2 separate regions of the Homo sapiens genome follow, and region 1 is linked to region 2. Evidence: fine-mapped expression QTL. A gene starts in region 2. The other region holds a variant in brackets. All regions are shown on one strand. Distances are between the middles of the regions.

Region 1 (5,387 bases), 50 kb before region 2:
CAACCTGTAACAGGTTGTGAAGGGATGTCAAACTCCATCTCTTTGAATATACAAAAAAAGTCTTTTCCCTCCCAAATTAAATACAGACCTTCACTTTACATCATCAGCTCTTATCATTATTTTTAAAATGATCTAATTCTGTTTAATTCACTGCCTTGCAGCTACGTGAGTCATTTGATATATTATGAATGATAGTAAATTGTATTTTTAGAATAATATTCAGGCTGAAAACATATTCCAAAACAAACAGAAAGCTCATATTACAGTGACACAAAAGGCATTAAGGACAGAATATTACTGTAATGTTCAGGCTAGTCTAGTAATGCTACTTTGTAATATGCCAATAAAATGCCAAGTTTCAATAAAAAATTGACTTTGTTCTACCATTATTATTATTATTTTGTATTTTTTTTAGAGATAGGGACTCACTATGTTGCCCAGGCTGGTCTCGAACTCCTGGGCTTAAGCAATCTGCCTGCCTCGACCTCCCAAAGTTCTAAGATTACAGGCATGAGCCACTGTGCCCAGCCTGTTTTACCACTATTTAATTCAAGTAAAAACGTTAATTTAAGACTTTTTACTAAGTATAATAAGTTTATTTAAAGAAATATATTCCAGCTAAATTATTTTTATCTTTGAATCCCTTTTCTCTCCCGTTGTCCTCTGGACTAGGTAGGGGGTCAGGCAGACTTTACTTGCAGACCAAATGCAGCCAGCTGGCCTGTTTTGAAATTAAAATGTTATTGGAACATAGTCACGCCATTCTTGTATCTTCAGTGGCAGCACAGCCAACTAGTTGTAACAGAAACCTGATGGCCCTCAAGCCTAAAATATTTATCATCTAGCCATTTAAGAAAGTTTAGCAGGCCGGGCACAGTGGCACACCCTGAATCCCAACACTTTGGGAGGCCGAGGCGGGTGGATCACCAAAGGTCAGGAGTTTGAGATCAACCTGGCAAACAGCACAACCCTGTCTCTACTAAAAATACAAAAATTAACTGAGTGTAGTGGTGGGCGCCTGTAATCCCAGCTACTTGGGAGGCTGAGGCAGGAGAACTGCTTGAACCTGGGAGGCAGAGGTTGCAGTCAGCAGAGACACACCAGTGCACTCCAGCCTGGGCAATAAGAGTGGAACTCCATCTCAAAAAAAAAGAAAGAAAGTTTAGCAACCCCTATTCTGGACTATTTAGACAAGAAGTCTGGCTAGAGTATTCACAGTTGAATTCCAAAGCTAACACAGTGCCTAGCACACAGAATAGTAAAGGGTTTCTTAAATACTGAAGATGTCTGGCTGCTTTCAGATACACTCACAGAAGATGTCCAGGATTTAAAGAGAGTGAAATTCTAACACAAACTTTTTATTACATGAATAGTTTCACAGTATTCTTGCACAATAAACACCTGTGATTTACCTTAGTTAGCTTTTATCAGTGAATGGGGAGGACCCTGGGCTAAGAAACATTTGGAGCCATATCAATACAGTACGACAAACTTAATGCAAATTTTCTTCTACTAAGACTACTTAGTAAAAGGGGAAGGGTAGTAAAACACAAAACAAAAACAGAAAGATGAGAGTGGGTGACAAGAATGATTATGATCCAGTATATATAATTTTTAGTTTTCTGAGACCTCTCCTTAAAATACCCATAGGACCCACAATAACCCACTAATCCAGAGAGATCAAATTAGCGGCAAAGCAGGGATAGAATAAGGTAATTTTTAACCTCAAATAAGTGTTCTTATAATTAGAACTTCATAATATCAGTTAAATTTCTGACAATTAAAGATAAATTATTACATTTCTAGGTATGACTTCTATTTCAGTAAACTGCTACATTCTTTCGTAAGACACATTATTTCTTAATGATATGAATAGCAACCTCTAACTTTCTGATTTGTACCTAAGCACTGCCCTGTATCCAGTTTTGTTTTGTTTTGCTTTTTCTTTTAGATGGAGTCTCACTCTGTCACCCAGGCGGAAGAGCAGTGATGTGATCTGGGCTCACTGCAACCTCCGCCTCCCAGGTTCAAGTGATTCTCCTGCTTCAGCCTCCTGAGTAGCTGGGACTACAGGCATGTGCCACAACACCCGGCTAAGTTTTGTATTTTTGGTAGAGATGGGGTTTCACCATGTTGACCAGGCTGGTCTCGAACTCCTGACCTCAGGTGACCCACCCACCTCGGCCTCTGAAAGTGCTGGGATTACAGGTGTGAGCTACCGCGCCCGGCATATATCCAGTTTTTCAAAGTAATATACGATTAGGTGGCTTCAGAATCTCATCATGAACTTTTCTCTACTTGAAAAAAAAATTCTGCAACTCTGAAAACTAAAAATAACAACTTTTAACCTGAGCTCAAAGAGAAATTACCTAAGAATACTAAATTACTAGGTGATAGAATTGAATAAAGTTCAAACGTAAACAAGCAATATTAGCTGAAGACATGTGACTCGTTTGGGGCAGATATGAAATGTAGTTTTAAGGGAACGATTTGTTTCCTAAAGGAAACAAATTTTATAAACAATTTTTATCAGTGTTCTTTAAAAAGTATTTTCTTTTTCTAGATTTCCTTTCCAAAGATAAATAAAAATAATATTTTGTCAAATGATACTTTCTTCTGCATAATTAATCTGTCTCTTTCCAATGCTCCACATTCCCTGATGACATCGAAGTCAGGATGTTTCACATCATATGTTTGTGGAAGAATT[G/T]GAATGCCACAATAACTGATTGTGAAATGGCAAGAAATATTGAGAAAAACAGGGCATATTAAAAACAACTTCCTAATTCAAAGTTTGCAGTTGGGTAATCATTTGTTCTGAAATAGGGAGGCTCAGGGCAGGGAAGTGTAAATTTGTTGAAAGCACCTGAAAACTGTTTCAGCCAGGGTTCAGTCAACACTTTTTTTTTTTTTTTTTTTTTTTTTTGCTCTGTTGCCCAGGCTGGAGTGCAGTGGCACAATCTCGGCTCGCTGCAACCTCCGCCTCCCCGGTTCAAGCAAGTCTCAAGCCTCAGCCTCCCAGGTAGCTGGGATTACAGGCATGTGTCATCGCACCTGGCTAATTTTTGTATTTTTAATACAAACAGGGTTTCACCATGTTGGCCAGGCTAGTCTCAAACTCCTGACCTCAAATGATCCACCCACCTCAGCCTCCCAAAGTGCTGGGATTACAGGGGTGAGTCACCATGCCAGGCCTGTCAACACCTTTTGCTCACCATCGTATAGCACATTTGCTCTTCTCTTCATTGGCCACATTTTTCAAAAATCAAGTCTGTATTACAACTGTATCAGACATTTAATAACTTTATTCTAGGTTCTTGTGCATTATTCTTACTCCATTTGGAAAGCCTTAGGCACTATGTTCATCTTTTGGAGATACTCTTTTAAAATCTAATAAAGAGGATCATGAAGAGAACTGCAGATTTGCAGTGTTGCATTCTGTGGAGATATGTGAAGCTGGAGGAATTGGAAGAAATAGATGGCTGACCTCTTGCAAATGAAGAGGATCCTAGAGTCCACAGAAAGATTCGCCAGGATGTGTAACAACGTATCTCATTGCTAGGCCCTGCTGCAAAACTGCATCCTCATGTAATATGACTGCATCATAAATGGGGAGGGGAGAAGAAATACGAAAACTACCCAAGAGAGACCCAAAAGGCCATATGAAATGTTATAAATGATGTAGATTAACAAAAAGGTAGAGAAATATGTCAAAAGCAACCACAGTTAGAATGGTTATTATTAGAAAGACAAAAAATAACAGATGCTGATGAGGATACAGAGAAAAGAGAACGCTTATACACTGTTGGTAAGAATGTAAATTAGTTTATCTACTGTGGAAAATGGTATGAAGCTTTCCAAAAAAAAAACTAAAAGTAGAATGACCATATAAACCAACAATCCTACTACTGGGTATTTTCCAAAGGAAAGGAAATCAGTATATCAAAGGGATATCTGCAGTCCCATGTTTATTACAGCACTATTCACAATAGTCAAGACATGGAATCACCTAAGTGTCCATCAATGAACAAATAAAATGTGGTGCATATACACAATGGAATACTACTCAGCCATTAAAAAAGAGTAAAATCGTGTCATTTGTAGCAACATGGATGGAACTGGAAGTCATTATGGTAAGCGAAATAAGCCAAACACAGAAAAAAAAAAAAACCCAGAAAAACAAATATTGCATGTTCTCACTCATACGTGAGAGCTAAAAAAAAAAGTTGATCTCATGGAGGAAGAGAGTACTCATAGAATGATAGATATCAGAAGATGGCAGGGGGTGGGAAGGGTGTAGGTGGAGGAAGAGAGGTTGGTTAATGAGTACAAACATACAGTTAGATAGAAGCGATAAAGTCTACTGTTCATAGCAGAGTAGGGTGATTATAGTTAACAACAATGTAGGCTATATATATATATTTTGTTTGTTTGTTTGTTTTTGTTTTTGTTTTTTGAGACAGAGAAAAGTATATCAAAAACAAAGATGGTCTATAAAATCTACCATTTTTATTCCCTAAATTATCAATATCATTTTTACACATGCCTTATTACATATGTGCTGTGAATACATCCACCATAACTCATGTTTTGATGTGTAAATACATGAGTGTAAACAGGCAATTCCCCTAAATAAAACCTAATATACAGAAATCTAAATTAACAAATAAAAAAGATTATTTATGGCCAGGCATTGTGGCTTATGCCTGTGACCCAGCATTTTGGGAGGCCGAGGTGGGAGGGTTGCACAAGCCCAGGAGTTGGAGATCAGTCTGGGCAACACAGGGAGATCCCATCTCTACAAAAAATGACGAAATTAGTTGGGCCTGATGGCATGCAAGCCGATAGTCTCAGGTACTTGAGAGGCTAAGAGGATCACTTGAGTCTGAGAGATCAAGGCTGAAAGTGATACCTAATTGATGGTGCCACTGCACTTCAGTCTGGGCAACAGAACAAGACTCTGTCTCAAAAAAAAGAAAAAGAAAGGAAAAGATTATTTAAATTTGAGTTGATATTTTTCTTTGCAAAGAATTCTTCAGGCTAGGCTTGGTGGCTCACGCCTGCAATCCCAGCACTTTGGGAGGTGGATTGCATGAGGCCAGGAGTTCGAGACCAGCCTGGCTAACATGGTGATAACCCCATCTCTACTAAAAATACAAAATTAGCTGGGCGTGATGGCACATGCCTGTAATCTCAGCTACTCAGGAGGCTGAGGCAGGAGAATCACTTGAACCTGGGAGGCAGAGATTGCAGTGAGCTGAGATCGTGCCACTGCACTCCAGCCTGGGTGACAGAGCGAGACCCTGTCTCAAAAAACAGAAAAGAAATTGCAATATTCTAATTTTGCTTTTTAAAAAATCCTTGCTAAGATGACAGCAAGAGAAGGAAAA
Region 2 (5,387 bases):
CTGAAACCCCAAAAGATGTAACTAATACAAAGGCTCAACATAGCTGCCATTTAGAAACAATCTTTCATTTATGCACAGGAATAATTTACTCATAAGCCCAGCCCTCTCAGTTAGGTTAATAACACCACTATCAGTTTTCCAGCTGTTTACTTCCCTAGCTTTATTTCTAGACATGAGAAATAAGGAACAAAATATATAATTAGGAAAACAATTGGAATGTCAGCCTACGGACAAAACTGAGACAAAATTTATATAAGTAGAGAGTATATTGAGGTCAAATTTGAGGACTGCAACCAACGAAACACCAAATCAAGTTGCCCTGAATATATACAGCAGTTACAAGTGGGTTTTTAAAAGAAAAAAGAGGCAGTTTCTAAGTTGAGAAGAATTTATATTAAAATAACATAAACTATATAAACTATTGATAGGCTAAACATTGTTTTTTTGTATCACAAATTCCAGGAACATAATGAGTGAGGCAGTTAGTCAGGAACAAAATGTCTTTAAATAATTACTCCTGCGCATGCGTACGGGGGGACGTGACTGAAGTCTCACACTCCTATCTCTCTGGGCCTGATAAATTGTGTAGCCTTCACAAAGCTCAGATCGCTCTGCGCTATTTTTCTTTTTTCAGGGAGTTGCACAGCTACTGACAGAAAGCACATCTTGGTTTTAGTCCATAGTACAAAACTCAATTGTGATCGAATGTTTTCAACTTCCTTTCATAATAAGGTTTTAAACTCATTTCAAATAATTAGATCTGGTTCTAATGAGCTGAAAAGCAAGAGAAATTCTTGCGTAAAAAAGGAAAAATATTTTTCCCCTTTTCTCTCTGTAGTTCTGAAATCCAGTGAAATTACTCATTACTGAAACTTATCAGATGAAAATATTGGCCAGCATTAAATTCTTTTCCTCCCCAACCCCCACCTCTTTTTTTCCTTTTTCTAACCACCACCCTTTTGTTAGGCCAGCTTAACTAGCTTTACATCTCTGAGCCTAGCCTGAGGGGCCACATCCTGTGTCTGGAATGTAAAACCTCTCTCCCCACTAGGCCTCCCGTCTTCCCTCCACACACACACACACACACACACACACACACACACACACACACACGGACTTCCCTTGCCTCCAATCCCATTTACATGTGTATCATTTTTAAATCCCCATCTAAATTTATTAAGTCATAATACTCACTTACCATTTTTGTACACATGCTACTCAGTGTATATCCTATGTTTCTTATCCAAGTTGCCCATTCTGCATGTGTCTGTCTTAAAATACAAGCTCATGCATGACTTAAGCCCGGAGAATTTGCTGAGGACAAAGGCAATCAAGATGCCATGTGCAAATAACATTTTTTTAAAAAATCAAGCTTGTGATAGCAATACATATTTAAGAGATAAGTGGAAAGATGTTTGAAATATTGTGATAAAACTAACTTAATGGAACCTTCCATACTTCTTCGATCATACCTAGAATACAATCATTTCTTTCTTAATCTTAGGAAATATCAGGAAACAGAAAAGAGACTACTTGTAGATATCTTACCTAGTTCCCCATGTTATAAAAGTATCTTGTGGAAGGGACAGGGGTTTTTGGACCTACAAAAACGCGTAATTAACCACAACTGCACATGGACAGGAAAAAGCTGGAAAAGCAAGACTGTTCATTCTTAGTTTTCTCCTTTTACTTACTAAAGCTATAATCAACTAAAGTGTGTTTTTCATCTGAAATGAAACAAGCATGAGGAAGCCAGAAATAGAACCTCTAACTATAGAAGAAAAGTTGTGTGATCTCTGTTGAATACAAAAACGCATAGTTTCCACTCGGTTACTGTTTAATTGTAGTGAAAGTTTTTGTTTGGCAACAAAGGCGCTATTTACATATTATTTCTTCTAAGTGAAACTATGGTCTGGGATGGGTTGTAGATAAGAGCAGTTGAGAACCACGCTTCATCTCCCTCCTTAGAAACTCTGAAACGAGGCTTTATTCCTACCAGAAGTTCAGATTGCATTATGGTCATCTCAATTCCAAAATGTTAGATGGCAAGAATATCTGCCCATCCTTCACTTTCCTTGGAAAAAGTTGCTCTTCGGGTTTTATATGCGATTGCAGTTTTCCAGTGTGTGAAACTAGGAAAACAAAACACTCAACGGTGTACATCCCTACACCTAAATAGTCAGAAATAATAGGCAGCTAGGCTAATTATCCTTGATTAGCAAGATCAGAGCCATTAGGGTGCTCACTGGTTTAACAAATGAATGCCCTTAGGCGTCTATCATTTGTAACTCCTAGAAGCTTTAATTTCCACAAGAAACAAAATAAGAGGGGCCTTCTGCTTTTAACAGTGAAAAGATCGTTCTCCCTCCCCTCTCCACCCGGGTCAACTCTTCCAGCCGCTCCCTCCTGCATCACGAACACACGCTGCAGGAAAGCGCATTTACAGCCCGGGACATCCCCAGACCTCCTCTCCAAAATTCCCCACCTCCTGTGCATAGGAGAAACTGAGAGAAGCCCTCACTTCCTTTCCAAACTTCACAAGCAGGGGAGGGAGCTGTAGCAGACTTTCACCTCCGTTCCCAAAAGCGAATGTGAAAAAGTCCGAGAAGGCACGTCCTGCGAGTGGAGGTTAAACCGAAATCTGAACAGAATGCACGGTCCCCGCAAACTACGATTGATAAAGAAGATACTGAGACGTTTGCGGGGGATATAAGCCATGGTTGTCTCGCCTTCCTCCCCTCCCTGCCAACTATGTTTCTTGGAGAAATCGCCGGTTCGATTCACGCACACATTTTTGTAAAACACGGACAAAACCATAAGTAGTTACCTTCATTGTTCCGTCGGCCACGAGGGAAGCTCGAGCTGAGCGGAGGGCAGATCCCAAGGGTCGTAGCCCCTGGCCGTGTGGACCGGGTCTGCGGCTGCAGAGCGCGGTCCCGGCTGCAGCAAGACCTGGGGCAGTGCCCGAGGCGGCGGCGAGTACACGTGGCGGGCTGGATTGCAGACCGGCCCTCTCGCGGCGGAGACTCGCGACCTAGCGGATTGCATCAGCAGGAAGACACTAAGGCTGCTCCCCCAGGCCGCCCCCAGATGGTGGAGTCTCTCCCAGCCCGAAGATTCGGAGCCAGCGCCCAGACCCGAGCCTCACTCACTGCTCACTCCCGGGGTGCAGGGCAGAGGTGCCAGTGTTGCAAGCAAATGACACGGTTACCCCCGAATCAGCCACTGTGGGTGCGTATCCGAGTGTGGGGATGCCCGTGTAACATTTATATGGAGACGTCAAGGAGGAGGAAATAAACAGATCAGAGGTCAAATGTGATTGCCATTCCGTCATCACTGGCTCCTGCCCACCTCCCTACTGTCCCCAAAGTAACTTTGCTGCATGCTGAGAGGACCACGGCACAATCCTGCCCAAAAGTATACATGTATCCCCCGCGGCTACTTTAAATGTACTTTTGCAGTAGTCAAGAACATGTGCCTGGTTTGCCGATCTCTTTCCCAGAGTTCCTTAGTCACCCTCAAATATAACCATTTTTGCCAATTTATTATGTACATGGGGGAAAATTTTTAATCCTTTAATTTGAGCATATAAAATTCTTTATAATGTGAAATTGCCCAGTAGCCTAGTTGGTCCCCTGTAAGTTCCCTCCCCACATCTATACAAAGCTCCAGGATTGCTACTTTTCCATGTCCAGCGCCTAGGTCAGCCTCCATGACTGCTTAAGTGTGCTGCTGGTTGACCTCCGCTGCCTCTCTGTCAAGCTGGCAAACTCCTATTTTTGTAAATTTCAACCCAAGTCTTTGCTGTGGAAGTTGCTTCCAATGCCCTCAAACAGAACTGGGCCCTTGGTCTATGTGCTGCACTTTGTCCACATCCTTTCTCAAAATCAATTATTTTATTTTATCATTTTTTAATGGAGATGGGGTCTCACTAAATTGGCCAAGCTGGTCTTGAACTCCTGGCCTCAGCAATCCCCTCGCCTCCGCCTCCCAAATTGCTGGGATTACAGATGTGAGACTGTGCCCAGCTTCTTAATTTTACTTTAATTATTTGTTTGCACAGTTGTCACTTCAGTGGATTATGAGATTCGTAAGGGCAGATCCTTTGTCATATTTATCTCCCATACCAAGTGGCCTGCCGTGGAAGAGAGGGAGTGTTGAAAACAAATGTGTCAGTGCTTAATGACTGTTGGTCAGGTGAATGAATGGTTAAATTATGTGTTCAATAAATGTACTGAGTGATTTCTACATGCTAGGCTGGTATATAACAGTGGTTTGTAATCTGAAATGTCTCAAAATGGAGCCATTTATGACAAGGGTTTCAGCCTCCAGTGAAATTGCTGACCCCTCAAATTGATAAGCATATGTATGGTGGACTGAGGTGATAAGATAACACCTGCTGTGGCCTGGCACCATTGGCAAGAGAGTAAAGAGAGAGGCAGCTGAGATAATGGCTATGGGCACTTGCGGATGCTGTGAAAACCAAAAAGTAATGAAAACCTGAAAGTAACTGACCACAGCCAAAATGCTTGCAGAAGTTCTGCCCTGAGAAATCTGTATCTGTAAGCATTTAATCAGCCATTGAGTCCTTGTGAAACCTCCTGGCCCCCGTCAGTGAAAGCACAGCTAGATAGATTTGAACCTGACACTGACATGAGACAGGCAATGTGCAAAATGCTAGGGACTGAGTGGGAAACAACAAAAATGTTCTTACCCTCATTAAGCTCATATACTAGTGTGAGAAACAGAAAGTAAGCTTTAAATCAGGTAGCAAAATGTTTATCAACTGAGGAATGGCTAAATAAAACATGGTATCATCCATACAATGGAATATTATTATATTCTGCAATAAAAAGAAATGAAGTACTGATTACATGCAGTCACATGGATGAACCTTGAAAACTATGCAAAGTGAAAGAAGCGTCTCACAAATGACTACATATTATATGATTCCACTTATCTGAAATGTGCAGAACAGGAAAATCCATAGAGACAGAAAACACATAGTTGTTTTCAATCTGGGGACAGGGTGGAATGCAGAGTGAATGTTCATGGGCGTTGGATTTCTTTTTGAATTGATTAAAATGTTCTCAAATTAGATTGTGGTAATGGTTACACAACCCTGTGAACACACTAAAAACCACTGAATTATACCCTTTAAATAGGTGAATTGTATGTTATGTGAATTATATCTCAATAAAGATGTTACTCTATGGCCCGGCATGGTGGCTCACACCTGTAATCTCAGCACTTTGGGAGGCTGAGGCAGACAGATCACTTGAGGTCGGGAGTTCGAGACCAGCCTGGCCAACATGGTGAAACCCCGTCTCTACTAAAAATTAGCCGGGCGTGGTTGCGGGGTGCCTGTAATCCCAGCTACTCACAAG

What was found.
Region 1: its variant is fine-mapped to the expression of BCAT1 in blood mononuclear cells (TOPMed, PIP 0.95).

The regions. Positions count from the first base shown.
Region 1 is chr12:24,895,624-24,901,010 of GRCh38, forward strand. The region is part of intron 2 of BCAT1 (branched chain amino acid transaminase 1); the gene reads right to left. Among named protein-coding and RNA genes, the nearest start is that of BCAT1, 51 kb to the right of the region's middle. The variant G/T (reference allele first, on the strand shown) is at 2,708.
Region 2 is chr12:24,946,100-24,951,486 of GRCh38, forward strand. It overlaps BCAT1 (branched chain amino acid transaminase 1), which reads right to left and starts at 3,002. Exons shown (of 11, transcript NM_005504.7): 1 at 2,828-3,002. The coding sequence starts at 2,833. It overlaps BCAT1-DT (BCAT1 divergent transcript), which reads left to right and starts at 3,064. Exons shown (of 3, transcript NR_199054.1): 1 at 3,064-3,231. RefSeq lists enhancers at 2,896-3,245, 3,366-3,455.